Linked DNA regions of Homo sapiens: region 2 is linked to region 1. The links come from fine-mapping of genetic effects on gene expression. Tissue or cell type: tibial nerve. Region 1 holds a variant in brackets; the other region holds the start of a gene. All regions are shown on one strand. Distances are from middle to middle.

Region 1 (15,714 bases):
ATGTTTCCATATTCTCTACTCGACTGCCCTAAATGGTGATATATTATAAAATAGCACATAGTACATTACATAGTTATCAACACCAGAAAATTAGCATTGATACAATACTATTAACCTATTTATATACTTCATTAAAATTTTGCCAGTTCTCCTACTAATGTCCTTTTTTGGTTCAAAATCCAAGATGACACAATATGTGTAGTTATCATTGTCTCTGTAACTCCCTTTGGGAAAATTCTTCAATCTTTTTTTGTCTTTTATGAGCTTAGCGCTCTTTTTTTTCTCCTCTAAATTATTTATTGAAATATTTTCTTTATAGGCTTTAAATACCTTAGTGTAAGCAGAACTTGAAATACAAAGGACAAACATTGTGTAGAACCTAGAACACCCTATCAGTTCATTGAATCATGATTTCCTCCACACAAGTCCTCGGATTCTTAATTTGTTGAATTGATCCTAGGCCTTTGTTGTCTCAGGATATTTTTCCTAAATCCTAATTGATTGACCAGTCTTATCTGAAGAATTCCTGCCCCCTACCCACAATCTGTGTAGGTGAGTTATTCTTCTGTCTCTTAGAAAAAGTTAGACTAGGCTGCAAAGAACCTATACCTCTAAGCGTCTCCTCCATTTTTTTTTTAACCTTCTTTAAATATATTTTTGGGTGTTTAAATGGGATTAGAAGTGTCATCTGGCCCCCAAAAGTGACCACTCTTAAACTAAAGATATTTCCATAATAATCAAAGCATAGTAATTTTCTGGGAGACTTCTCACTTCATCACATCCTTCCATACCCTCTCTGGCAGTTCTCTTGAACTTATCCTAGTGATTCTTCTTCCTATTGAAAAATAATGTGCGTACTGCCACAATTTACTGTAGAGTTCTGTTGTTAGTGGGATAAGGCCAACAATACCATGTAGAATTCTGTTGCTCTTCCTTCTTCATGCATGGAAATTTGTCTAAGTATTGTTAACTCCCTAGATGTCTCTATACTTCCAGCAAAGAGATAGCTGGCAACATAGTTTTGTCATTTCTTGGACAGAACTCTTTTTCTTCTCAGGCCAATGTGATAGCTTCTTAGCTTGCCCTCTTTCAGAATCCTTGTCTTTGGTAGCCCGTAAGGCTGCAGAATTTTTAAAACTGTGTTTGTATATACAGTTCAGTAGTGTTAAGTATATTCACATTGTTGTGCAGCAGATCTCCAGAATGTTCCCATTTTGCAGTACTGAAACTCTATATTCATTAAACAGTAATTCTCCATTTTCCTCTTTTCCCAGCACCTGGAAACCAGCATTCTACTTTTTTGTTTCTATGAATTTAACTACTCTAGATACCTCATAAATGTAGAATCATATAGTATTTGTCTTTTTGTGTGTGGTGTGGCTTATTTTACTTAGCCTAATGTCCTCAAGGTTCATTTATGTTGTAGCATGTGACATGATTTCCTTCTTTTTAAAGGTTGATTAATGTTCCATTCCAAGTATATGCCACCTTTTGTTTAATTATCTGTCCATGGCCATTTGGGTTGCTTCTACTTTTGGCTAATTGTCTGTAATGCTGCTATGAGCATGGGTGTGCATGTATTTCTTCAGGATCTTACTTTTAATTATTTTCAATACATACCCAGAAATGGGATTGCTAGATCATATGGTAATTTTATTTATTTTTTTGAGGAGCCGCCATACCATTTTTTATAGTGATGGGGTAATTTTATGATCCCATCAACGGTGCACAAGAGTTCCAATTTCTGTGCATCCTTGCCAGCATCTGTTATTTTCAAAATTTAAAACAAATTTTGTTTGTTTTTATAGTAGCCATCCTAATGGATAGGGGGTGATATTGTGGTTTTGATTTGCGTTTTTCTAATGATTAGTGGTGTTGAGCATGTTTTCATATGCAAGTTGGCCACTCGTATGTATCTTTAGAGAAATAGCTGTTCAAGTATTTTGCCCATTTTTTATTATTTTAGAGAAAGGGTAACTCTGTGTTGCCCAAACTGGTCTTAAACTCCTGGGCTCAGGCAGTCTGCCTGCCTCGGCCTCCCAAGTGCTTGGATTACAGGCATGAGCCACTGCACTGAGCTGATTTTGCCCATTTTTAAACTGGACTTTTGTTGATGTTGGGTTATAGGAGTTATTTATATATTCTGTATATTTACCTCTTAGGTGATTTGCAAAGAGGTTGACACTTTTGAAGAGTACCAGCTAGTATTTTGTAGAATGTCCTTCAATTTGGGTTTGCTTTAAATTCAGATTATGTGTTATTTAGTAAGAATATCATAGAAATGATATTTTGCTTCTCCCAGTACTATCAGTAGGTGCATGATTTATTGTATATCATTATTAGTGACATTAACTTTGATCCCTTTTAATAATTAAAGTGATATTTGCCAGGTTAGCCTGCCATAAATTCATTATTTTCCATTTACAATTAATAAGTGTCTTGTGGGAAGACATTGAATGTATTTGCATTATGTTGCTTTTAATCATCCATTTGCCTATCTGTTTTAATATCTATTAACGACTTGCCCCAATTATTACTTGCCCCAATTATTACTGTGACATTTGCCAAATGATGATTTTCTATTTTTATCATTTCTTCTACATATCTTAATTTATATTTATTAATTTATTTCAGCTGCAGGAAAGAGCTGTATCAACTCTCTCATTTATTTGTTTATTTATTTACTTAAATCAGTAGACAATGGATTTTTTTTCCTATGGGTTACAGTTCATTAGTATTAGGATGGCACAAAAGCAGTCATGATTACTTTCAATGGCAAAACCGTGATTACTTTTGCACCAACTTAATATTATAAATTTTATTGCTTAATTTGCTTAGTTTTATTTTCTCTGTCTCAACTCTGGAATCAGCCATTTCTCCAAGGAGCCCTGATTCATTTCATTGAAAATGATATTTAGAAGCCATAATATGGTTGCTAGGTGTCCTCATTTCTACTGAGAGATTATTCCTGTAGGCCTTTTCAGTTTCTTATTAATTTCTATTTATGTCATCATTTTTCTAAGTTATTAAGGGGAGCACTTAGCTCACTAATTTTTTAGTTTTCTTAAAATCAAAATATTTAGTGCTATAAATTTTTCTCCAGGTAACTTTTTTATTTGTTAATTTATTCACCAAATATTTAATACATGCCTGAGGCTCTATTTTAGGTGCTTGGAACACATCTGAATAAAGCAAAAATATTTCTTTATTTGTGGAGTTTACATTCTAGCAGAGGAAGACAAGTAATAAAAACACATTTTAACTGCATTCTAACTAGTTTTTATATGATATTTTTAGTATTCAGTCCTATCTATTTTCTGATTTCCATTGTGATTTCCTTTTTCCCCAGAGAACGTAGCTTTAATAATATGCCTTGGTATTTGTTGAGACTTGTTTTCTGGGTGAAAATATGGACAGTTTAAAAAAATATTTTAGATGGGTTTGAAAAGAATGTTTTTAATTATTAGTGTTTTTAAAAATCTGGCATGTAGAGAAAAAACTTAATTGCATTGTTTCAATGTATTTATTGTCTGCTTGCCTATACATTATGGGACTGTATTAAAATCTTTCACTATTTTTGTTGCAATGTTGTTAATTTTTTTTCCTGTTATTCTGCTAGTTTTTGACATGTATTTTGAATTACATTTTTAGATGATTTCAAGTTCATAATTATTATCTTTCTGTTGCACCATTCCTTTTGTGATTAGGTTAGACTAAGTTCATATCTAATCATTCTTTTTTCCTGAGATTTATTTGGTTTTGAAAATATTTGTTCTAGTCTTTTAAAGTTAGTTTGTACTTATTAATTTATTTTCTATATTTTTACTTTGTTCCTCTGCATCACTAGATTCTAGGTTTGTCTCTTATAAATACATTTATATTTTTAGCAGTCTGACAGTTTATTTCTTCAGCTGGTGAACTTAGTGTATTTAAGTTTATTAAATTTATTATAATTACTGACATATGTAATCAAATCTAAGATATTATGTACATATGTGCAGCCCATATTAGATGCTTAAAAAATTCAGAATTGTTACTTCCTCTTGTGTAATTTCTTTTGTGTTTCTGTAGGACCTGATTTAGATCTAATACCTAATGCTGCCCATTAAACTATGACAGAATACCCTTAAACTTTGTCTTACTTAAGGAACTCAGAATACTCAATTGTTGCAGTCATATCTTAATAAACATTTTTTTCATTGATATCAAATTCATGGCCTGCTGCTCTGTTTTGGTCTGGTTAATTACCTTTTCTACATACACAAGAATTTTTCTTCTCAGTGCCAAATCATTAAGTTAAACTCCACATGTAATACTATCAGCTATGTACATAACTCAGTTAAGTAAAGACAAATGGACAGACAGGATTGAGTGTGTGTGTGCATAAGCAATAAAAACTGTGTCATAACTGTGTGTGTTCAACAGCAGCTGTAAGATGTCATCACTTTTAAGATGCATTCAGATTTCAGAGATGTTAACATATGAAAAAATGTATGGCTAAAAATTGATTTATTCTGGTATTTTAAATTTTATCATATTTTGTATTTTTTTATTTATTCTAACTGTGTTTTCTTTTTCTTTAAACCTTTTTTTCTTGCCATCTATTAAATTGTTTAGATGTTCTTTGTTATCTTCTTTGCTCCTCTACTGATTTTGGAGTTATGAACCTCTGTTATTTTAGCATTTACCCTTAAAATTTCAAGGTATTCATTCTATTTAACAAACTGTAAGGTTAATCACTTTCCTACTTTTTTGGATAACTCAAGGGCATTATAGCATTTTAACTCTGATTATGTTTTTTCTACATTGTGTATTGTTTTTGTCAATGTTTTCAGTCTACCGTATTCTAGATTGCAGTTTTACATTTGTGTATGAGTATTTGATGAACATGTATTTAATGATGCATCTTATAATCCAAGACATCTTAGATTTCTCCACCAGACAGCAAAAGCATATACCATGTCCGTGTGTGTGTGTGTGTGTGTGTGTGTGTGTGTGTGTGTGTGTTTCGTCATTTAATTTCACTAGCTATAATGGGGCTTGGCTTACAGTAGAAAATAATTGTTTTATTAATTGAATATTTATTCTACTATAAAAAGACCCCCGTGGTAACCAGAACAATCTCTTTGTTCATATGAAGCACCCGTCTCTAAGAGCTTTCTAGTCTATTGATTTTAGACTTAGACCCTCCAATATAATCTGACTTGGAAGCTTATAGAGAATATTGTGTAGCTATCAAGTGATGACCGTAGAGATTTTCAGGTATGTGTCAACACATGATTATGTTCATTCAAAATGTGAAAGGAAAATTCAGATTATAAAGTATTAGGGATATAATGATTGAAATAGGCAAGGAGTCAGGCCTTGGACTGGTTGGACATCTTTTTTTTCCAGTGGTAACATAATCTGTTATTTATCTTTTTGAAACTCCCAATTTTCTTCTGTACTTTTTAGCTCATTACATTCTGTTGGGCTTAAAGATTTATTTGCTGCTGTGGTCACTTGCTTTTAGACAAGAGGCAAAACTTTCTACTGACATCTACCTCAGGTAGCAAAGACAAGTGCCTAAAGTAGGTACTGTTTTATGTGGGCCAAGGTTGGAACAGGATATTTCTCCTTAGCCTTGGAAACCATACTAGTAAAATAGTTTGTCATAGGGTGGGAACAAAGGTTTTCTCACCACTTCTTCTATACCAAGACTG[G/T]ACTCTGTCCCCTGTGTATACTTTCTTAAGTTTTCTTCTTGGAAGAAAGTAGATCTGGCTAATCCACTCTTCCTGCAGTTTCCTTGGGACTATTGCATGGGTAAAAATGAAATAACTTAACATGAATGAAGGCGAAAAGATAATTTTAAGTGCTATAAGTAAGTTTAGTTTCTTTGTTATTGTAAAGAGGTCTGGGTTTACAATTTAATATTAGCTAGAACTGAAATAATACTTTCTTCAACTGGTTAGTAGCATTACTGATAATTAAAAACTGGAGAATGGTTAAAAAATTGTGTATGATTGGCTCAACTGTAATGTACAATTTATATATTTTAATAAAATTTGTGACATATTTATATCTAAGATGTGAATTAATGGAAAAAAGAGAACAGCTGACAGAATTAGAAGAAAGAAAAGGACAATGTTAATAATAGGACACAGCATTTTAATAAATATATTGAATATATAAAAATATATTGTATCTCAAGAATTTGATCCTGTTCTCAAGTCTGTTTCTTACTGATTTTCAATTGTAGTCAATACTAGTTCCACCTTTTTTCCTTTCCCTTTCCTTCAGATATCATCCAGACACTTAACACAGTGCCTGGCATATTCTAGCTTCTTGATAAATATTTTAGCTATTTAAATGAGTAAAGGAATGAATGGATGGAGAGTGAACAAATGAACAAATGACGAAGTTTTAGTCTTTTGCAGTACAAATAAATATACATGTAAATTTATTGAGATTTGAAAACAATCTTTTAATAATTTAGGTAATGTAGAGGAAAAGATTAATTTGTTTTAAAATGTGAACACTGGAGTTTTTAAAAGTAGGGTTATACCATCTGAACAACAAATGGAAAATAAGAATTAAATGAAGTAAGGTAACTTGAAATGAATTTATGAGATATGTATTCTTTAATGTAAAAGTAATTGATTAGCAGGTTCAGAAGAAATTTTTAAAGACTTTATTCTCATTTTAACCTTGCTTGTTCTAGAATTTTGTCAAGTATAAATTGTTTTGAACTTTCTACTTAAATTGAATCGATTTTTATTTCTGAATCATTATGAGTTCTAATTTAGTGCAATTGAATCAATGGATTTTACTGTGTATTATATATTGGCTTTAATGCCATATATCTATAAAATATTTCCCCCCACATTTTGGATCTATATGATTCATATTGTCTATTGATTCTGTATTTAAATATTTAAATATGGTTTATGATCAAGTGTATGGGCTGTGATGTCAGGCAGATTTGAGTTTCTGTCTCTAATATATTACCTCTTAGTGAGCAATTTATTCAACGTCTCAAACTTCAGTAGCATCTTGTATAAAATGGAGATGATTGATTCCTACTACCATAAAAGGTTGTTGGGATGACATAATAAACTTACATATGTAAAATGCTTAGCATAGTGTTTGGGATATGGTAGGTATTCAGTAATTGGGAATAACTATTTTTCTCCATTGTGTGTTTTTTTTGTCTGCAGCTTTCCCCACAAATAAACCAGAGAAAGATGCAAGACATGTAGTAAAAGTGGTAAGTGTTGCTCATAGATTTGTATTTCACATATATTTGACTTTTTCCTTTTCTGCTTTAAGAATGTTTTTCACGTTAATTTTTGTAACTATTGCCTTATCAGTAAACCTAATGTTATCATCTGTTTTGACGTTGTTAAAACATTAAAACTGGAGAACCTTTGTTTTTCTGTATTGCCAGCTATTACCCTGGTGTGTTATCTATCTAGCTATTCTTTCTCTTTCCCTCCCAAATGCCCTCCCACCCTCTCCACCTCTCTAATCAAGATGGTAAGGTCCTTAAAGGCAAGCATAGGGTTTTATTTCTTTTTGGTGTCCCCTGTACCTAGTATAATGAATGAAATATAGTAGACCATTCAGTAAAGGTATCATGTGTGAGTGGACCACAAGGAGAGTTTGCTGTGTATCACCTGGATGTATATGTTGGTATACAGTGAGTGTTGTATATGTTTATGTATACAGTTCTCAGTGCTTCTAGTAAGTGTTCTCTGTAAGAAAACTACTTTTATGTGTAAGACTGTATAGGGATAGTGGTACAATATGTCGTTTAAAAATTAGATTCTTCAAGTTTATTTAGTGTTTTCTGAGATTTTTAGTGGAAATCTGGTGCCTATGTTTTATAAAAAGTGATTCAAGTACTATTATATACTACATATATATGTTCATATTTTCACAGTTGAAATAACAATTCCATCTTTGGGATTATTTTTTTCTAGTAAAATTAATTATTCTTTTTTTTATAGGAATATCAAGAAAATGGCCCGTTATTTTCAGAACTTAAATTTTATCAGAGAGTTGCAAAAAAAGACTGTAGTAAGTAAAATTAGCAAAGCAAGCTACTTCCATATATGTGCTTGCTAAAGTGAGTGTTGATATTTTGGTCTTTTTCTGGCCTTCTGGAAAATTCTTTTCAATAGAAATTTTATTGTAAAGTGATACAGTTAACTGTTACAACATATAAAAGCAAGACAGATGGTATACAAATCTTGACATGACATACATAATGGGTTATATATTTTAAGTCAAAGTTGTTTCTACTACTTTACATAAAATGTTAGGTTGTTAATCTAAGCTACCAAGAGTTCCCTAAGTGTAAAAGATAGTAGAATGAAATTATTTCTTTTACAGTAAACCATTTGGATAGGACGGCTATAAGGAAAAAACATTAAAATGGGAAGTAGATATATGTATAAAAAAAGAACGATTGTAGAATGGATTGGGGCAAGGTGTGTGGAAATGTGAAAATGATTAAACTTTAAGATGTTTAAGAAAATGTTAGAAACTTGAATGCTGGAAAATTAATTGGAGCTGGATACCAAGTGTAAGAATGACCAGTTAGAAGACTTGAATGGGAAATGAATATAAGCAGAGAGGAAAAATAACAGCATTTTATAAATGTGATATAGATGGGCTAAGAAAAACATTAAAGAAGTAGACAGGAGTAATGACTGTATAGTCAAGGTCCTTTACATCATGTTTAAGAATAAGAGTGATGGGTCTGACCTCAATATTTAACTTAGTTTTTCTTAATAAAGTCTTCTAAACATTAAGACTGTAATCTTTACTAATTGCTTAAACTATGTCACAGTGACAAATAGAATCCATTAAACTTGATTGTTTATCAGTAGAGCTGTCTTAAACATAAAAAACATAGGCTAGAGTCATGAAAAAAATGATGAAAGTTAACTTTATTTAAGTGGATTTGATTTTTTGTAAACTAATCAAAACCAGTTTTTGTATAAAGTAATTTCAAAGTAAGATGGTTTTTCTGCCCAATTTCTGCTTTTTTTTTCTTTTTTTTTTTTTTTTGGTCCATTATGGTTTTAAATCTTGAAGTAATAGGGAAGAAAAAGCCATCTCTCTACTGATCTTTTGGTGGTTAACATATGTTATATTTAGAAATTTAGCTAGTATATAAGATAATGAATTCTTTTTATAGATTGAAACATTAATATATATGGTATCAATATACAAAGCCTATGACTTGTTTTTATTGATTTAATTTAAAAATTTCTAATTTTTTGTTAATTATAGTGGTAACAGTTTGAGGCCATTAGATAGAGATGTTTGATTGAAAAAAAATTATCTTCTAGGAAGATCTAATTACTTTTTTGGTTAGCTAAATAAATTTGTCTGTAGAAAGGTGACAAGTATCTTTTCAAATAACATGAATCTTTTTAAAAATAAATTTGTCTTTGTAGTCAAAAAGTGGATAGAACGCAAACAACTTGATTATTTAGGAATTCCTCTGTTTTATGGATCTGGTCTGACTGAATTCAAGGGAAGAAGGTAAAATGGAATTATTATAATCAAATATTTCTTTATAACTATTCCTTATGTGGTCTATGAGTTAACTATTGCCATGTAACAAATTACCAAAACATATTGGCATATAACCACAAACTTGTATTGTCTTAGTTTCTGTGAGTGAGGAGACTGCAAGTGGCTTATCTGTATGATTCTAGATCAGGATCTCTAATAAGGATATGTAGTCAGCTGTCTGCTGGGTTACATTCATTTCAAGGCTCATCTGGGGAAGTATTTGTTTTCAGGGTTCCTCATGTGGCTACTGGTAGGCCTAAGAAGATCTACTTCTAATTTACTTATGTGATTGTTGGCAGGCCTTCTTACTTCCTGATCATGTGGGTCTTTGCATAAGCTACCTGAGTGTTATGAAAAATAGCTGGCTTTCTCTAGAGCAATTAATTGGGGGACGGGGAGAGCATGCACACAAGTGCATTCAAGAAGGAAGTCATCGTTTTTTGTAATCTAATCTTAAAAGGGATATTATCGCTTCTGCTTTATTCTCTTTGCTAGAAGCTAGTCACTAGATAGATCCATTGGTCCTGAGAGAGGAGAATTCAGTTCTATCTCTTGAGGAGAAGCACAACAAATAAGTTATAGAAATATCTTTAAAACCACCAAATATGGCTAGTCCTATATATAATTTATTAATAGTGTTTGAAAAAAGAAAAAAAGTGTGTCATTTTATATTTACCCTTTTGTGCCAGAGACTTTTATATACTTTATCTTATTTTGTCCTTTGAATAGCCTGTTAAAATAGGTGATATTATTTTTATTCCATAGATGAGAGAATAAGCTCAGATGTCAGTACTTTGTTGAAATGGTCTCTAAATGCTTTAAATTTAAAAAAATGAGCAAACAGTAATCTTGAAGTAAAGGACTGCCACTGGGGGACTGAATGGCTGATTGAATCATGATACATCCATATCATGTCATATGTAGCCCATTAAAGAAGTCCATTAGAGCTATACTAGTTGCCTTAGAAGGATTTTGATGAGATACTATTGAAAAAAGTAAGATGGAGAAAATACTTATAATATGATCACATTTTTGTAAAACAAATTCCTAAGTGTGTGTGTTTGTGTATGCATGCATAGATATAGAATAGGGGCTGATGTGGATATATAAATGAAGGGAAGGAAAGAAGGTATGGAAGGTGCCAAACAGAACAGAAAAGGAAGAAGTGCACTTAAAGACATGTTTATAAATGTATAGAGACGGTATATATGATCTTATCAAGAAACAAACAAATATAAAATTCATGTGGCTGGGCACGGTGGCTCATGCCTGTAATCCCAGCACTTTGAGAGGCTAAGGCAGGCGGATCATGAGGTCAAGAGGTCGAGACCATCCTGGCCAACATGGTGAAACCCCGTCTCTACTAAAAATACAAAAATTAGCTGGGTGTGGTGGTGCATGCCTGCAGTCCCAGCTACTTGGGAGGCTGAGGCAGGAGAATCGCTTGAACCTGGGAGGTGGAGGTTGCAGTGAGCTGAGATTGCACCACTGCACTCCAGCCTGGTGACAGAGCGGGACTCTGTCTCAAAAAAAAAATCAAGTGTGTACAATAATTTGTTCAAGGCCATATGGCAAGAAAGTCATGGAGTCAAAATGAATTGCATTCAGTACTATCTAATTTAGAAAGATTTTTTCATTATGTAAAACAGTGTGAATGGTTCAGTACAGCATTCTCTTATAGAAAATCAGCTGCAAAGTAAATATTGAGCAGTTTCTGCAAAAGAATAGCAGAATTATGAACGTGCATTCATTCTCTAATGGTTTAGATTGCATTATACTTAGTTGTTAGGTTGAGCGTAATTTTTCTTGTTTCAAATTAAATAGACAGTTTCAAGCATTACTTTCTCAGGATGATCTCTTTTTGATGCTTTTTTCTTACAGTTACAGATTTATGGTAATGGAAAGACTAGGAATAGATTTACAGAAGATCTCAGGCCAGAATGGTACCTTTAAAAAGTCAACTGTCCTGCAATTAGGTATCCGAATGGTAAGAATTACTTATTTCGCATGCTCCATTTCCAAATTGTTTACTTCTTGCAATATAGAAATCTTTTCCCTTTGTGGAATTATTAGAGAATGAAGGATTATTGCCCTAGAGACATCAGTTATTAGGAGTAGAGGCTATTTTGGTGAAATTGATAACAATGGGCTCTGTAAGTGACAGAATGTGCTGTGTATGGCACTGCAAACTCAATTAGGCTTTGGTTCTCCAGTCTGATCTTCTTTTTCCTTAGAGCTTTGTTTTACATACCAGAACAAGCTTTCATTGCTGTAAGAATAACCTTTCTTTTGTCAGTTATAACAATGCAAATTATGGCAAAATATATTGTCAGACATTTTAAACATGTGATGGTAGGGGGGTGCTATGAAGTTTTTATTATGAGTTTGGGATGGTGGCAATAATTAGTTGTGACAATGAATAAAATATACTTTGCCAAAGCAGAAGCAACGAACTCTTAATAGCACTCAGGCACACATTTGTTTATACTACATATTTGTCTTATATGTTTGTATTTGGTTTGTTTAAGTCTCATTTTTTCACTTTTGAGTAGCATGAAGCTGCTTATGCCAGATTGGAATGCAGCAAATAGAATGCATTAATTTTCTCATTTATCCATCCTCGAAGCCAGCAAATGTTTATTGAGTACTAAGTGTATGTAACATGCAAGGCTGAAGGGCTTTAGAGATGAAGCTAAGGAGTTTTCTATTACCATACAGAGGAAGAATACCTTTCCCTTTGCTCATGGACATGGCATTTTGTTCTGAGATTCTCAAGGCTTGATTTATAATTATTGCTTAGGTGAGGAATTGCTGAGTGGGCTTCAAGATTATTTCACCATAGATCTCTGATTTTATGCTATGTTTTTCCTCTTTGTGCAGTGCGGTTTGGCTACTGGGCTATCAGGAATTAGGCATAAGCATTTTTGAATCTTGATTTTCTTCCTTTGGAACTTCAACTAAAATACTTGATTTTTGAGGATCATTTTACTTTTTTCTAGGATGAGCAACCAGAAGATGTGATATTTTAGAATAATTAACCAGTAATTGTGAAATACATCGCTTTGTCAATGTTAATATGAAAAAACCCATGTTATTCTATATTCAAAATGTTGAAATTGATCATGAGTTCTAAATAGCAGTAAACCTTATTTTATCTATTTATTTTCACAGTTGGATGTACTGGAATATATACATGAAAATGAATATGTTCATGGTGATATAAAAGCAGCAAATCTACTTTTGGGTTACAAAAATCCAGACCAGGTAAATACATACTTTTGCTTTTAATAAAGGTCTTTAATGTATGAAACTGAAACATTCAGAAAACAAACTTCTAACCCAGAAGAGTTTACAAATGAGGGCGTAACATGATGAATGTTGTAATTTATCTTACCTGCTTATCTAATTTAATCTTTGTACCAAACTAATGAGTAATTAGGATGAGAAACTGAGAGTCAGAGGGGTTAAATAATATGTTAATGGGCACACAGTTAAGAAGTGGCTGAGCAGGAATTTGAATTTCTGAGCAAATATAGATAAGCAAAGAACCATCAAAATCCAGTGGGAGTAGAGATGGATTTATGTAGAGGTTAAAACACTGTCATATTAGTTCATCATTTCCTACTGTATAACCAATTAAGTTTTAAGCAGAGAGGCCGGGCGCGGTGGCTCATGCCTGTAATCCCAGCACTTTGAGAGGCCGAGGTGAGTGGATCACCTGAGGACAGGAGTTTGAGACCAGCCTGGCCAACATGGTGAAACCCTGTCTCTACTAAAAATACAAAAATTAGCTGGGTGTGGTGGTGGGTGCCTGTAATCCCAGCTACTCAGGAGGCTGAGGCAGGAGAATTGCTTGAACCCAGGAGGCGGATGTTGCAGTGAGCTGAGATGGTGCCATTGCACTCCATCCAGCCTGGGCAACAAGAGAGAAACTCCATCTCAAAAAAAAAAAAAAAAAAAAAGTTTTAAGCAAGCTTTTCCATTAAAATTTTGTGTAATGATGAAAATATTCTGTTTGACTGTCCAATATGGTAGCCATTAGCAGTATGTGGCTAAGTACTTAAAACGTGGTCAGTACAGTACCAACTGCTGATGAGTATTTGGAGTAACAGGAACTCTCATTTGTTGCTCATGGAAATTTGTTGCTAATGGAAATGCAAAATGATACAGCCACTTTGGAAGACAGTTGGGCAGTTACTTAGAAAGCTAGACACTCTTAACATACCAAGCAGCAGTTGTGCTCATTAGTATTTACCCAAATGAGTTGAAAACTTACATCCACACAAAAACCTGCACGTGAATGCTTGTAGTCGGTTTATTCATACTCGTCAAAACATTGAAGTAACCAAGATGTCTTTGAGTAGGTGAATGGATAAACTGATACATCCAGATAATGGAATATTATTCATTGCTAAATAGAAATGAACTTTTCAGCCATGAAAAAACATGGAAGAAACCTAAATGTATTTTACTATGTAAAAGAAGCCAATCTGAAAAGGCTAGTTACTATACAATTTCAACTATATGACATTCTGGAAAAGGCAAAACTATAGAGACAGTAAAAAGATCAATTTTTTACTATCTCCATAGGTTAGAAGGGAGAGGAAGGATGAATGAGTGAAGCACAGTGGATTTTTAGGTCAGTGAAACTATTCTGCATGATACCATAATGGTGAATACATGTCATCATTTGGTTGTTAAGATCCATAGAATGGACAAGACCAAGAGTGAACATAATGTAAACTGTGGCTTTTGGATGATAAGGATTGTCATTCTTGGTTCATTCACTATAAAAAATGTGCTACTCTAGTGAGGGATGTTGATAGCGGAGAGACTTTGTGTGGGCTTGAGGTATATGGGAACTCACTGTATTTTCCACTCAGTTTTACCTACATTGCTCTAAATTTACCTAAATCAAACCTAAAACTTCTCTAAAAAATATAGTCTGTTTAAAAAATGTAGATTATATTTTTAATATTAAAATATTAATATTGACAAACTGAATTTTTAATTTAACTTAATTTAAACTTAAATAACAATATACCTAGTTGTTACTGTATTATCACGTTTAAAGAGTTAAATGATTGAGTCTATAAAAAATTAGAAAAAATGTAATTGAATATTTGATCTCTGCATTGGTTAAATTTCTTAATAAAAATTTTTTCAAAATGAAAGGTGAATGAGAAACTGGGAAATAGATAGATAACAAATATTTGAGAATATCTAGCCGGTACTAAAAAAAAAATTAAGAAAAACACTAAATACCTTGTTAAAGCGATGATCGAAAAGAATGAATAAACAGAACAGAGAAGGAATATGACTGTCCTAGAAACAGGAAAAAAGGCTACCTTTGTGAAAAATGAGAAGATAAGGAGACCAAAACAGCGAGGCACCCTTTTTAAAGGACTTATCAAATTGGAGAGGTCTAAAATAATAGTCTGATAATATTGAGGCTGATAAAGGTACCAGCACTTTTAGAATGCCCTTTGGGAATGTAAATTAAATGGTATAAGAAAGTTAGTGGAAGGGAATTTGGCAATATCTGCATACTTTTCAAAGATTAGGTTTTTTGAGATATAATTTACAAACAGTAAATGTCACGCTTTTAAATGTACAGTTTGATATCTTTTGACAGATGTATGTATCATGTAACCACTACTGCCACCAAGATGTAGAACATTTCTTTCATTCCCAAAAGTTCTCTCATTCCTGTTTAGAGTCAGTCCCCTTCTCCTGGCATTGCTCCCAGCCCCAGGAGATGATTTCTGTCCCTATATTTTTACATTTTCAGGAATGGTATATAAGTGGAATTGTAAGGTATGTACTGTTTTGGGTCTGTTTTCCTTCACTTAACATAATGCTTTTGAGATTTATCTTTGTAGGTCATTAGTAGTTCATTCCTTTTTATTGCTGAGTAGTATTCTATTGAAAACTGCTACAATTTCTGTTCACCTGTTGATGGCTATCTGGGTTGTTTTCAGTTTTTGACAGTTATAAATAAAGTTGCTATAAGCTAAGCATTCACATACAGCCTTTTGTGGAGACATATGTTTCACTTTCTTTTGAGTAAATAACTAGGAGTGGAATTTCTGGGTCATATGAAAGTGTATGTTTCACATGGAAACTGCCAAGTTGTTTTCTGGAGTG
Region 2 (15,714 bases), 38 kb before region 1:
AAAAAAACCCTAAATATCCATCTAAATAAAAACGATTAAATGATGATACATCTACACTATGGAATATTAGAAGACATGTACAACTGGAATATGATAAAATATTTATATATTGATGCAGGTTGGGGAAGCCACAATACTATTAGTTGATAAAAATCAAGATGTGAAACAGCAAGTAAGGTATTATCTGATTTACGTAAAAATAAAACAATTTTAAAAGCTATTATACAACCTACATCATCCTGGCCAGTTTATACCCTCATTTTGAAAAGATCCTCACATAGGATCATATTCCAAGAAACAACTCTCCTGCAGCCAAAGATAACCGAAAGCAATGTGCATCCTAATTGCACTTCCTCACAACATTGCCAAAAGGGGAAGTACATTCAACTCTTAAAAATGCTCTTTTTCTTTCTCTTTCAGTCTCAGTTATCTCAGAGCAGCTGTTCTCCACAAAAAACTTTCATATTCCTCTCTCCTTATTCCCTAAAAATTTCTCCTACATCCAATAGGATTGAATTCTTGTCTTTTCTGTTTCTCCTCTAGCCTTCTTAATTATTTTTCTCCCTAGCATTTCTTTTTATTTCAATATGAATTTCCTGGCTTCCTGAGATCACTCCTTGTCTTTCCCCAACTCATTACCCCAATAAGCATATTAAAGACTCAGGATTTAGTGACTAATTGTTTAAGGATGGGGGATCATGACTGATGACTGGAGAGGGGGAAAATGTGTTTGTTATACTGTTAATTGAAAAAAGCAGAATAAAAATATTATATACACACAATTTGAGTATAACTGTGGAAAGCATATAACCTAAAACCTTTTACGGGATAAAAAATAAAACACTAAAAGGAAATGCACTAAAATGTTAACAGAGAGTATTTTTAAAAATTTTTTATGGGCAATTCCCCCTCTATAATTACTTCTTGATATTTTCTTAAATATTTACTATAAGCATGTATTTTATTTTTATTTATTTTTTATTTTTATTTTTATTTTTATTTTTGAGACAGAGTCTCACTCTGTTGCCCAGGCTGGAGTAGTGTTGTGATCATAGCTCACTGCAGCCTCAATCTCCCAGGCTCCCAATCCTCCCACCTCAGCCTTCTGAGTAGCTGGGAATACAGGCACACACTACCACACCTGGCTAATTTTTTTTACTTTTTATTAATAATTTTTGGTAGAGACAGGGTCTCGCTATGTTCCCCAGATAAGCATGTATTTTATAATAAATAGATTTAAATATTGGTATATCTTAAGGAATTTGATAATTGTGTATCTCTCAGCTGGAATCTATATTTTTCACTCATTTCTAGATCCACAGACATCTGAGTGTATTTGCCTGAAATAACAAGGAGTCTTCAGTGAGATAACTCAATATAACAGGTAACAGAAGGGGAAGTCAGGAAGACTAGGTTTGTCCAATTACTTTTATGATATCTAAAGAAAAATAAATCTGAATATAACATAATATCTTTCACTTGTCGTGTCCACTAGCTCCCAACTGCATGCTTAGGTCCTGAAATTGGCAGTGAGACTTAGAGGAAAACCTAAATACACTGTTTACATTAAAACATTTGTTAGCCCCTGTAGTGGAAGTAGTAAAGCAGTAAGAGAAATTGTGACCCAAAGCGACAAGAGAAGCCTTTGCTTCTGTGTGGACCACAACTTGGTTTAAGTGTCTTAAGGGCTGCAGAAAATCCAGGTCCATTTTGATGCCTTGCAAGCTACAGAATGTCAGAGATAGAGCTGTGTGGAAGAAGGCAGCTAGCAACATTAGCCAGATACTTCCACCTAGTTCATTAGGTAAGCTATGTGTCAACAGTAGATACCAACCAAAAGGTTCACAGTAGGAGAGACAAAGTGATGGAGCACATCTGAGATAGTCATTGGGAATGGTCAGGAATATTTGGGGAATAGAAGGTTCGTTCAAGACCCTTAGAGGATGTTGTTGCAATTGCATGAAAGGTAAGCCTAAAAACATGACTTACATGACACACAGGAAAACTATTTCTTACTTCTCCTCTGAAGGTGTCAACTCTATTCTTATTGAACATTCAGCTTCTGCTTAAAAATCATTCGGCCAGCTCCTCTTCTCCTCCTTATCCAGCTCATGTTTTTGGTTACTGCAGGGATGTTAACTGGGGGGGAAAAAGGATGTAGAGTGTAAATATAGTCTTATAGTTAACCTTTTATGGTGCTCGTATTTGGGGAATGGACAGGGTAAGAATCATACCACTTTTGGCTAGTCAATATTTGGTTTACTACATTCAATTGTTTGAGAGATAATCTGATACATATTTACATTTACATTTTGTTTGGCAGCAGGGTTCTACAAATTAATATGCTTAAAAATTTTTTATTGAGCCTTTTGACTATAAATGAAAAATAAAATTCTAAGCCCCCGAACTAACTGAATGGACCCCTCTTTTCAGCCAAGGACATTCCAAAGTTAACTGGAAACACCAGTTCAGGCCATGATGGAAATGGGTGGTTGGGTATGCATACCCTCTGCCCTTTGAAATTCCCACACAACTGACCAGCATTAATATTAAAGCACAGACCTTTGGACTGACGAGACAGACTTTTTGTAGCAATAAGATACCAACATGACAGATACCAGGCCCTGAAAAAAAATGAAGCAGTTTATCCCCAAATATATTTCTTTGACATGTTTTGAAATGGCCCTGCAAACATTCTCTTGTGGAAAAAATCTACATTCTGTAGAGAATCCCCTTCCCTTTCCAAGTCTTTTTCCTGATCCAGAAGAGAATTAACTAAGAATCTGGCATCTTTTTAAGTCTGATAAGAAACATTTAAAGTCTATTCTCTCTGAAGCCTGCTACCTGGAGGCTCCATCAGTAAACTAATACCCTTGGTCTCCACAACCCCTTATCTTAACCCAGATATTCCTTTCTGCTGATTCCAGGTCTTTAGATAAACTCAGAAAATCTTTGAATCCACCTATGACCTGGAACTCCCCCCTCCTACCCCCCTTTCAAGCTGTCGGGCCTTTCCAGACTGAACCAATGTACATTTTACAAGTATCGATTGACGTCTTCTGTCTCCCTAAAACATACGAAACCAAACTGTAGCCCAACCATCCTGGGCACATGTTCTCAGGACCTCCTGAGGCTGTATCCCGGGCATGTCCTTAACCTTGGCAAAAGAAACTTCTAAATTGATTGAGACTTATCTCAGATACTTTTTGGTTTACATGACATATTGATATGACATTTTAAATTATTTTTAATATTCTAATTCTTCATTTATATAGACAATGAAGAATTATGTCATTTGGATGATTAAGTTTATACTTTGTAATGATCTTATATGTAAAGAATGCAGAGGACATAGATACTTGGTCTGATTGTTTATCTAATGGGCTTGGAATTCCATTTACCTGAATTCTATTATTTTCAAAATTATTAATTTCAAAATTTCTATGTCAGGAACTGCTTAGCTGTTTAGAGATTGTAAGTTTATGAGTGCAAATGGCCTCCTGATTTTTACAGAACAAAAATACTAGCTCTTCTTTGGCAGGCAAAACACGTTCACTGATATGATCTCCTTATCTCACTTTAAATAACAAAAATTGGCTTTTTCTGAATGTTTTGTCTATGCATCATCTTTAACATTTTAATTGATTTGAAATGATCTTGGCCTTGTAAAGTATGCTTACTAAATGGTTGGGTTTTTCTTTTTCTTTTTAACCAGTGTAAGCATTTTATAGCACCCAGTTCTTTGAAAAGCAGAACGCATGCCATACCTACAAGTTGGCATACAGCCAAGAAAGTCCTTTTGTGTGCGTGTATTTGTGGTGAATCATTCATAGCCTGTAAGATCTATCAAAATAGCTTTGTTTGAAAACCTAGTTTTCCCCATATTTTTTTTCTGATGACTCACACTTCACTGCTTTCATGTCTAGATTCTCTTTTCTTTCTTGTTTCTCATCATGTTCATTCAGAAGATGTTCTTTCACTAGTTCCAAAATTTGTATTTCTATATTCTGTCAGTTTTCATCTTGAAACATACACACAGCAATATGCTCTGAATCATAAAATTCTGCATTAAATCCCAACACTTAAAAAAAACACATATTCTCAATATAGGTTTACCTGCTCCTGTTGCCATTTTTATTTAGTACAAATTTATTAACATTTAAAAATCATTGGCACTTATGAAACTTGAAACTTTATTTTACTGTTAGGAAGATTTTGGCTGCAAGAAATATAAAAACCAATGCTAAGTGGTTTAAATCATAAGAACACTTAACACTTCATGGATGAATATGAAAATATGGTGGTTCAGGATTAGTTGAATTAGTAGTTCAATAATGGCCTCAAAGACTCAGGATCTTCCTATCTTTCTCTTTTGCCATTCTTTTAAATCGATTTTATTAAGGCATAATTTATATATAATTCAATTTTAAGTGTATAACTAGAGGAATTTTGACAAATGTATAATAATGTATCTATTACCACAGTAAAGAAATTTAACATTTGCAACGTTTCAGCTCCTTGCAGTCAATCCCAGCTCTTCGATTTCGAATAAATTATTATATTATATATACTCCTTTGTGTCTTCTTTTACATAGCATTGTGTTTTTGATATTCATCCAGCTTGTTGACTGTATTGGTGCTTTGCTCCTTTTTATTGCTGAGTGATAGTTCATTGTATAGTAGATATAGTATAATTTGCTTATTCATTCACCAGTTGATGGAAATTTATTTCCAGTTTTGGCTATCACATATGAAGCTGCTCTAAAGATTCCCCTACAAGTCTTTGTGTGGATACAGGTTTAGATTTATCTTGGGTAAATATGCGAATGCTGGGTTGTATGTTAATTATATGTTTGACACTATAAGAACCTGCCAAACTGTTTTCCAGAGTGGCTGTACCATCAACAGCAATATAAGAGAGTTCCAAGTTGTTCCAAATCCTTGGTAACTTATTAGTATTTTTTGAAAAGCAAAAGTTTTTCATTTTGATGAAGTTAAATTGTCAATTTCTTCTTTTAGGTTTCCAGCTTTTAAATTTTTTATACTTTATAAGTGCACACATTTAAAGATTATATAGAGTTTCTGCTAGGTTTTCTCTAAAAAGTTTGAGATTTAGATCTTGTATTTAGATTTAGCTGTATGATCAGTTTCAAGTAAATTTTTACATGGGGTGTGAATTAAGGGTTGAGGTTTCTTTCTTTCTTCTTTTTTTTGTATATATGGATGTCTAGCTGTTCTAACATTTGTTGAATATTCTGCCATTCCTGGGGCTTTAGATTAGTACTTTTTCCCATCTTTGTGGTCACACGATGACTGCAGCCATTTTAACCATCACATCAGAGACTATCTCTTCCAAGAATGTGTCCAGCAAACTTCTTTTCACCTCGTTACCTAGACTCAGCACATGCTTATTTTGTACTGTCTAAACCAATCATGGGAATTGGAATGGGGCCAGCATGGTTCATTTATTCATTGAAGAAGGAAATGGTTGCCCATATCCTTTCTAGGGGTTGGGGATACAGTAGTGACGAAAACAGGCAAAAATGTTGCCTGACCTCATGAAACATACAATTTACTGAAAAAGATTGTCTTTTGTCAAAATAAATAATAAACTGTATAATATATTGCTGTATAGCAGTAGGTACTGGGAAAAATACAGGGAAAGAGGCTACGAAATATTGTGGGTGAGCTGAAATTTCAGATAGGATGTTTAGGAAAGGTCTCACTGAACTGACTTTTAAATAAAGACCTGAAGGAAGTGATGGAGCAGTCTATACGGATACCAGGTTGGAGAGTGGTCCAGGTGGCAGTAAATGCGAAAAGTTCTTGAGAACAGCAGGCCACTGTGGTTGAAGAGAGTAATAGGACATTGGGGAGTGGGAGTGCATAATAGGTAGATCAGTGTTCTTTTCAACGACTGGCAATTTTGGCAAAATTTCGTCATGTTGGGGGATATTTTGGTTGTTAACTTGTGTGGGAGGGAGTGCTGAGGAGACCAGGGATACTGCTAAATATCCTACAATGCACAGGACAGCCTATCTCTCAATCCTCCTCCTTCTCCCAAACCCCCAACAAAGAATTATCCAGGCTGACTGTCAATAGTGCCCAGGTTGAGAAATGCTGTTTAAAGTCATAGCGAAGACTGGCTAATTGTGAGTAAATTGGAATAACACTGAATTGTTTTAAGCTCAGTAATTATTTAAGCGTTAAGGATCATGTGGCTGCTTGCTGTGAACAGACTAAAGGGATAAGAGGGTATAAAACATTTAGGAGGGTAATACAATTACCTAGAGAAAAAATATGGTTTGGGCCAGAATGCAGGTAAGGGTGCTAAGTGATAGATGCTGGATGTATTTTGAAGGTTGAGCCAACAGGATTTACTAACACTGGATACATGCCTGTAGGGAGAGGAACCACCTACAAGTAATCTGCTGTGGTTGCTACTGGAGTTGTTTCTTCTCAAAAGGGAGCCGGGGAAGTGGTGGAAAGCTAAACAAATTTGGAAAGGAGGAAAGAGTACCCAATATGGATATTAGGATTATTATGCATCTGTTACATAAATATCTGTAATTATGCATCTGTTATATAAATATCTTAAGAAAATAAGAAAGGACACTGTTGGACCAGTGAATGACTAAGGGCACAATTATTCTATGGACTGTTTCTTTAAAAATACTTTTTTGTTTGTTTTTAGAAACGTCTTCTCATGCCATCTTTCATTTTGGTGACAGTCTGAAAGATGTAGGGAGCCCCAATTCCTTATTCTATCAAAGTCATTAAAGGGCTCTAATTTTCCTTTCAGTATTTGTATCCCAACCAATTATTGGTGGTTACTATGTAGAATGCTGACGTATTAATAATCTTTGTCTAAGCATTTGTTTGGTTTAGTCTAAAATATAAGCTTACTATGAGTCTTTTTTTTCTTTCCTTCGAGACTGAGTTTCCCTCTTGCTGCCCAGGCTGGGGTGCAGTGGCGCGCTCTCTGCTCACTGCAATCTCTGCTTCCTGGGTTCAAGCGCTTCTCCTACCTCAGCCTGCCGAGTAGCTGGGATTACAGGCGTCCGCCACCACGCCTGGCTAATTTTTTGTATTTTTAGTAGAGATAGGGTTTCACCATGTTGGCCAGGCTGGTCTCAAACTCCTGACCTCAGATGATCCACCCGCCTCGGCCTCCCAACGTGCTGGGAGTACAGGCGTGAGCCACCGCACCTGGCCACTATGAGTCTTTATGTATTAGAAAACTGCTTAATAAAGTCCTCACCTTATTGTCATAATCTTATAACCAATAACCTTATAATCTAACAACAAGGGTTATTTCCATTTCACAGACAAAAAAACCTGAAGTTTGTTAATTACGGTGTTAAATTATCCTACGATTAATGGCAGAAATAGGTCCTGAACCAATATGCCTTTGAGAACTTAAACGCGGTGAGTTACATACAGGCCCTCCTAACTGGAGTCTTCGCTAGTACCAATAGTTAGTTGCTCGGCGAGAGCTCGGTAAGGACTAGCCATTTGGAAGCTCGTAGTACTCAGGTTGTGGTACAGGAGATCTAACACTCCTACACAAATGCATGTCGTGCTTATTTCGTACCAAACTGGTCTGGCGGCGGTTCTTCGTCCAGACGCTGGCGGGCCAGGGTGGAGGTAGTAACACAGCTCCCATTCCCCATGTAGCCGCGCCCTCTCCTTCCCCTGGGCGTCTCCGGGGCGTGGACAGGCCGCTGAAAGGAACCGGCTGCGGCCTGTGTGAGGCTCCGCGGGCCGCTGCACTGCGAGGCCGACGCAGCTGGAGAGAAGTTAGGCAGGTCCTAGGGAGGGCAGGCTCGAGTGCTGGGCCCGCCTCCCCGCGGGACTGTAGGCCCGGGGGCTCCGCCTCGTCGCAGCGGCAGGTAGGAGGCGGTGCGCGCGGCCCGGCGACGGGGGATCCTGAGGCCCGGTCAGTCTCTTGCTCTGGGGTCTTGGGTGGCGGGCGGCACCTCCGCTTGCAGTGCCGGAGCCGCGGCCCCGCTCGGAAAAGGGCTGCCGTCGGAGTTAGATGCCGGGGACTCCGGGCCGTCCCAGCCCCCGGGCCTCAGCTCCGGCCCGGGCAGAGTCGCTGCTTCCGCGTTTGGTTCTTTTTTCCCCGCTGGGAGTGAGAACAAGGCGTCCCCTTCTACTCACGTTTGCCAAAAGCGGGTCCGACGTGTTAGCGGAAAAGTGGGTGGAGTTTCTCTTTTTGCCGGTGCAGAGAGAACTTGTGGCGGGAAGTTGGGGCGCGGGGTTGGCCGTAGGTCCCCGGCGTGCTAAGGGCGGACGGACCAGGCGGCTGGGCCGCGCTGCTTCTCGTTACCTTCCGCAGGGTCAGGGGCCGCGGCGGGGTTGGAGGTCAGCCCAGGCACATGTTAACCCCTGGGTACCAGTTTGCTCGGAAACTCGTGTTGAGGACTCATCTTAGCCCTGGGAAGGTACCCAGAAGCCGAAGGGACACCCCTGACAGGGACGGGCCCTGAGAGGCTGTCGTTTCCCTTGGCAGATGAACTCGGGACTCGCCCCCAGGATGTACATTTCGTAGAGTCTCCCTTACCGCCTCAAGCCCTGAGGCCGCTGCCTTGCCCCAAAGTGTATTTATCTTTTTTATAATTATTTAGAATTTATTCCTTAATCAGTAGTTTACACTTTGGAGACTTTAAGTTTTAAATCAGTAAATCTGTAATAGGCACCAGCCTATATAATGTACTGGTCAAGGGAAACCTCCACAAAAACTTTTCCTGCTTTATGATACAATCAATGCTCTAGGCATAGTTCACCATCCAAATTCCCAGCCCTTGTGTGCCTATCAGGAGGAAGGTGAATATTGTTAAAGATACACGCAGCGACTCTACCTGGGACAATACTGCTAAGTAAAAAAGCAGTTAAGTGAAGGAGGAAAAACCCGTTAAAGGAAAAACAGATACTTTCTTTTATGGAAGCTAGGAAGATTATATTAAGAAAACTTTACATTTACGTATATACGTTTTTAATTAACTTTCATGTCAGAAACTCTTAATAGTTTTAAATACTTAGAGGATCATGGTTACCTTCACATTTAAATTATTTTCAGGCATGTATGCTGGCATATGTATTTTCCCCTAAGAAATTTTCTCTTTTAACTCAGAATTTCCCATTGAGAAATTTGCTAACCTATGTACAATTATAATTAGTTGATTAAAGTTGCATGGCTGTGCTGTGGAGATTATGCTTTTGTTGTTGGTGGCACAGTTGTAATCTCTAAGGCAGGACTGTTTTCACTGTGATAAACTGAGAAAGAGGGTAAGAAGACAAAATGCTGAGAATATTTTGGCAGCCCGAGAACTGATGGCCTAGTATTCTGCTAAGTTACATATCCGTGAAAATCCCTGGCTCATTTAACAAATGTTTACTGAGTACCTAGTATCACGGTGGTGAGATGTCCATTGCCATTGTCTGTGTCTTCCCAATCCAATCCTGTGTTCTTTTCTAGTGACTGAAGACCTTCTCACTTTTAACATTTTACATTCTCAGTGACAGCAATATTTCCATGTACATGAAATTTATTTTCTTTCTTCATTGGAAATTGTTAATTTCGTGTTTCTTAAGGTGTGTCCTGCACTGTTAATATGTGCTATAGAACCCCGAAATGAATTTTGGATGAAATTTGGTTAGTTTGCTTCTGTTTTTTTAAAATATCTATACCTCTTAGATCTCAGTATTGTAATGTATGTGAATTTCTAATTTGAATATAATGTGTGGGCTTTTCCAAACTGAATTAACTTTAGAATCCTAATTTCTGGGAACCTGGGAAAGTTCCCTATTGAAGACATTTTGGGAAGTGTATTTTAAGAGTTTTGTTTGTTTGTTTTTCTTTTTACCCATTTATCTCACCCCTTCTGCCAACAGAAGTGATGCCACCAAAAAGAAATGAAAAATACAAACTTCCTATTCCATTTCCAGAAGGCAAGGTTCTGGATGATATGGAAGGCAATCAGTGGGTACTGGGCAAGAAGATTGGCTCTGGAGGATTTGGATTGATATATTTAGGTAAAGTAAAACCTTAAATTAACAATTATTCTTATATCTGTGACTGTAACCGTGATTACTTAGTGGTATTTTAAGAATGGAAATATGGAATTCATATGTGTACTTTATTAAAATTCATGATTGTACTCGATTAAGTAATAATAGAGTACAGTGTCTAGGTTCAAGACATCACTGACCCACTCCTTGTTGTCCATGTTTTTCTGAGTAAATCTTAGAAGTCTTTTTAGAGCATAATTATACAATCTGCCAGACAAAATGCTAACTTTCTTTTTTTTTGAGAGCTTGTTTTCTTAGAAACATGCTTTTTTCAGATGAGAAACCACAACTGTATAGATAAAAACACTTTCTGTTTGTGAATCTTAATCAATATTTAGGCAATACAAGAGTCTAGTCATTTCTTAATTGGGCTCTACTGGAGAATTCATAGATAAAACTTAAGGCATCTATTCTGTGAAATGAATTAACTTCTCTCTCGTGCATCTAGAGTGGTCCCTAGGGATGTGCCATTCTTGGGATAATTGAAAAAATAAACACTCAAAATTATTTTCTGTGATCTGTGGTACAGGTAAGGAACCATGGGCTGGATAGGCCTTTACATTGCATTTAAGCATTTAAAAATTACACTGAACTTTAATGGATCATTGAGTTGGAATGAGGAGGGGATATCCATTAAAAGATTGATTAATAAAATAAGGAAAATAGTAGTGATTTTTAAAAATATACCCTCAAGGATAAATTCTCCTAAATGTACTCACTTGAGACTTGAGATCACATCTATTTCTATAGGAGATTAAGGAGTTGATAAAATACCTCCGTTGAGGGAATCTTGGGTTCTCATCACATATTTCCAGAAAAACATGCTTCATGGATCCTGAAATATAAAAGATCCTCTTCTGATAAAATTAAGATTGTAGTTTTGAATGAATGAATGAATGAAGTTTGGTCAATAAATATCTGCTTATTAAATACTTAAGTGTCTATTCTAGTTGGAAAGACAAGATCAGCACAAAAAATTGTATGAGTCAAGTAAAGGACCCATTTAAAGGGTTTGAACTTGCTTGAAATTGCTTGAAAAAATACTATGGTTATTAAGTGCTAGATTGAATGACATAGTCAACACTGTTCAATAGAAATGTAATACAAGTTACATATGTAGTTTAAAATTTTCTAGGAGCCACATTAAAATACGTTAAAAGAAACAGGTGAAATTATTTTAATAATATTTAATCTAGTATATCAAAAATATTATTTCAATATGCTCTCAACATAAACAAATGAAATATTTTACTTTTTTAAATGAAAGTCTTCAAAATCCAAGGTGTATCTAGTCTCAAGAGCCCAGTTAGCCCATGTGGCTCATATGCTCAGTAACTACATGTGGCTGCTGTATAGAATAGTGCAAATAAAGACTATGTGAGGATAAGTATTGTTTGAAACTTGAACTTAGTGAATTCTCTTTTACAGCAAAGAGTTAAGATCTCTAGTATACTGTCTTGACTCAAGGTTGAGATATAGTGTTGAATAAATTATTTCTGATGTGGCTGAGCTATAGCCTTGAATTCCATAGCTTATCACTTTTGGTTTTCTAATATTTGTATTATTTGAGTAATTTCAAAGAACTAGAGAAAAGTATTGATGTGTTGATTTTATCTCTTTGATTTTCTTGAAATGTAAATATTATATGTATTTAAATTCAAGTGAATGTTTAAGATTAAATAGTGTATGTCTGTATACCTGTATGTATCTATGTGTACACATAGTCACTATTGTTACTGTTATGATAAAGGAATATACTTGCATAGGCATGTGACTTACTTGTCCCTATTCAAATGCAGAAAAATATTTGCTTCTTTCAGTCTAGTACAGTGTCACATATTTTTACTTTTTTTTTTTTTGAGACAGAGTCTCGCTCTGTCACCCAGGCTGGAGTGCAGTGGCTCAATCTCGGCCCACTGCAACCTCCACCTCCTAGGTTCAAGCAATTCTCATGCCTCAACCTCCCAAGCATCTGGGACTACAGGCACCTGCCACCCTGCCTGGCTAATTTTTGTATTTTTAGTAGAAACGGGGTTTTGCCATATTGGCCAGGATGGTCTCGAACTCCTGACCTCAGGTGATCTGCCCACCTCGGCCTCCCGAAGTGTTGGGATTACAGACGTGAGCCACTGTGCCCAGCCTACTTATTTTTTTTTATTACCAAAATAATACTGTTTGTTTTACAATATATTTTCAGGGTTCAATATGTAAGGGAACATTCTCTAGTATCTGAACTTTAGAACCTGGACCCTACCTAGGAAGATTAGCAAGTACACACCACTGAGGAAGGACTTTAAAGAAATATTTAGCTATTTTCAGAAAAAAGGCTCCAGTACTTCAGAATTTATAATAAAGATGTGTGTTCCAAATGTTGTAACTGTTCCATTAAAAGTGATGCTAATGAATCATAGAATCAGTTTAATTTCACTAAACTTAGTTTTTACTATTTTCAAAGCTATACAAACAAATCAATATGAAATTACATCATGTTTTTGCATTTTATCATGGTTCTCATCACTTCCTCTATATAAATGAAGAGAAGAAGCAGTAAAATTCAAATTTTCCTGAATACTTTTGTGTCCAGTGACATTCATTTCGATTCTTTCCAGATACCCTCTTTCAGCAGACACTTGATCAGCGTTTACTGCCTAAGGCTGAGAAGAAACTAGCTGCTCTGTCTAGCTCATTGTACATGTACAACTGTCCTCTAGCTTTGAGATCAGTAGCCAGGGCCTTTCGGTAATCAGCAGCTTACAGTTAAGGGGAAGGGGCAGAGAAGTTTGGTATTTACTCTTGACTTGGAGAAATAATGTGCCTCTAGCATTAATAAGAAATAGCTAAAAGAGTGAAAAGAAAAGTCTGAATACAAGAACAAAGTCAAAGTTCTTTCTTTGAATATGAAAAGAGAAGGGGAGGAAAAAGGAAGAAAGGAAACTGGTTTAGGGGATGGGAAAAATTGCTGTCATTTTAGTATCAAATGAATGAAAAAGTTTTTTAAATATCAGGAAGGAGAGAAAACTGAGGGTTAGAATTTTACTATAATGCTGGGTATAACACAGAACCAAGTAAATTACGGGAGAATTGCATAAATAATAGCAGAGGTTTTGGCATTAGGCATATCTGACCTGAATCCTGACCTGATGAAGCCACTTATTCATCTAGTTACTTAATCCTTTGGGTTGTTTCTATTCTGCATAATTGTGATAATAATAATTGTGAGGAGAATTAAATGAGATTTTTTTAAGGAACTTGGTAAGCATTTAATAAATGTAATTTAGTTATTTATTTCCATAGACTTTCCCATTCTTAATACTGGTGCCATAGTGGGGCCAGGCACAGTGGCTCATGCCAGTAATCCTAGCACTTTGGAAGGCCCAGGCGGGTGGATTGCCTGAGCTCCATCCAGCCTGGGCAACTTGGTGAAACCCCATCTCTACTAAAACACAAAAAATTAGCTGGTTGTGGTAATGTGTGTGTGTAGTCCCAGTACTCAGGAGGCTGTGGCATGAGAATTGCTTGAACCTGGGAGGAGGAGGTTGCAGTGAGCCAAGATTGCACCACTGCATTCTAGCTTAGGTGACGGAGTGAGACTGTCTCAAAAAAAAAAAAAAAAAAATGCTGCCATAGTGGATTAAGATGATGACAAAGAACTCCATTGGAAGGGTGGATTTTCTATTTATTCTACTATGAATTTTGGTGGATTTAACTACTAATGTGGTAAAACTGAGAACATAGAGAATGTCAGCATAAGACTTTATGACATTTTACTAACTGATAAAAGCTCCCCCTAAAATTTGCTATAGTAGTGAAAAGTTCTCATATAAGCTGTATTTAATCTGCCTCAGATATTAAAGCTATTGGTTTCAGAAATTATTCAAAATTGAGAATAACAGAATTACAGGATAAACTTTAGCCACATTCTTTTGAAGGCTGATTATGTAAGTAAAAGATATGATTTATCTGTAGCAGTTTTAGTTTTTTGAAGGTGGCATAGTGATGACCATTTAGCATCTTTGGAGTGTCAAGCACAGAATAGATGTTCAACAGTTATTTGCCTGAGAAATTGAGACTGAGATTGGAGTACTTAACCCACACAAGCTAGTTTGCTTTGTTCTCTTCCATAATTATAGATGTCACTCTTCGATCTACTGCAGATTAGTATCCTTAGTCACCAGGAAAGTTGAGACAAGGCACCTATCATGACATCATCTAAAAGAATGTGCATGTGCTTTATTGACAGGACATCAGTAGCAATATCTTTTATAAAGATACTATCTCAAAGCTTTTATAAAGAATAACACATTATTATAACTAAAGTTAACTGTGGTGAAGCCTGAAAATCAGATCATTTATCCATGGACAGATGTTTAAATTTCATCAAAGTGACTGCCAGACATTTTTGGATCATGTTGTCGGATTAGCCTAATTTTGTACTTCAGAAACATAGAAGGAATCTTTTGTTGGCGGATAGGTTTTTAGAAATTACCAAAGTTTAAATCATTTATTTTACTGATAAGGAAACATTTATATTTAAAACAAGTAAATATAAACCACATACATAGAATGTTTTTACTTCTTCATAAAATAATTTTTTATTTTCTTTATAAATAGTGAGCTATAATAGATTGATTTTAAGGTATGCAGAATAAAGTTTAGAAGAGCCCAGTGATAATACTAGCAACAAAGTAGTGTGTTGGAATACATATTGCTTCATTACATATTACATTATTAAGTGTTATTTTGGTAGTGTTTATAGAGAGCTTTGAGATAAATAGCCTTATCTGACACAATGCAACGTTGTGGTGCCACTGCAATTGTTATTAGGCAATTTTGCAAATGATACTGTGGGAGTGAAGAGAAGAATTGAATAAATGTGAAAATGAGAATAATTTGGACTAGAAACTATAGTGTTTATGATAAATTAGTCTCCAGAAGGTATAAATAATAGGTAATATAAACTCAAAACAGGGAAGGAATCACTTGGAGTTTTGTAAATTTAATACGTTTGTTGGACTTACAGACAAGAAATAAAAGTCTCTATAAGATGTATTTTAATTTTGTTTATATTTAAATTTTGAGTTTTTAAAGAGATAGCAGTACCCAGTTATCTATCAGTTAAGAAATCTGGGTGTTTAAGAAAGTTTGGGTTCCTTCCATTAAAAGGGAGATTTATAAGACTTGGCTTTTGCTTGGCTTTTTCATTTTTTTAAATATCCATTTTTAAGCATATTTTATATTATGGTTCTTCTTTATTTTCAACATTTTACTGTCAAATTCTTTTGCCTTAAGGGAAGATTTATAAAATACTCTATTCTTCAGTGCATTTATATATTATGTCTCTTCCACTGGACCTGTTACTATCTTGTAACTGTTTACAGTGGTCAAGGTTTTTTTTTTTTAATTTGAAACATATTGCTGTGGGGAAATTTCTTCTTCCTGAAATGAGCTCACCTCTATTGCCACACAATAAAAGAATTCTCAGCTTTTGAGAGCTCTGGCTTCCTTATGAAATATGGATAGACTTCTGCTTCTGAAGTGTTTTAGGTTTTTTTCTTTAGATAAGGAAGAAGAGGAATAAATAGTATGAGGTGTGTTTCTTCTTTTAAGACACAGGAATATCTATATCAGATAAATGAGAAG

Direction of the effects. Alleles are on the strand shown, and positions count from the first base shown. SD is a standard deviation of normalised expression in the study named.
In carriers of allele G in region 1, the expression in tibial nerve of the gene that starts at base 7,877 in region 2 tends to be higher than with T alone (small effect, 0.22 SD a copy in GTEx).

The links. PIP is the estimated chance that this variant, and not a neighbour inherited with it, causes the effect.
Region 2: it holds the start of VRK2, and the variant in region 1 is fine-mapped to the expression of VRK2 in tibial nerve (GTEx, PIP above 0.99). The same link has a PIP of 0.9 or more in skeletal muscle.

Annotation. Positions count from the first base shown.
Region 1 is chr2:58,076,893-58,092,606 of GRCh38, forward strand. It overlaps VRK2 (VRK serine/threonine kinase 2), which reads left to right. Exons shown (of 13, transcript NM_006296.7): 3 at 7,197-7,246; 4 at 7,989-8,058; 5 at 9,447-9,534; 6 at 11,449-11,554; 7 at 12,739-12,831. Among named protein-coding and RNA genes, the nearest start is that of VRK2, 38 kb to the left of the region's middle. The variant G/T (reference allele first, on the strand shown) is at 5,703.
Region 2 is chr2:58,038,930-58,054,643 of GRCh38, forward strand. It overlaps VRK2 (VRK serine/threonine kinase 2), which reads left to right and starts at 7,877. Exons shown (of 13, transcript NM_006296.7): 1 at 7,877-7,939; 2 at 9,898-10,038. The coding sequence starts at 9,903. LOC107984043 (formin-2-like) reads right to left here and starts at 8,304. Exons shown (of 3, transcript NR_171623.1): 1 at 7,595-8,304; 2 at 2,563-2,624; 3 at 1,147-2,139. RefSeq lists enhancers at 254-303, 7,145-7,700, 7,590-7,709, 7,701-8,256 and a silencer at 7,860-8,129.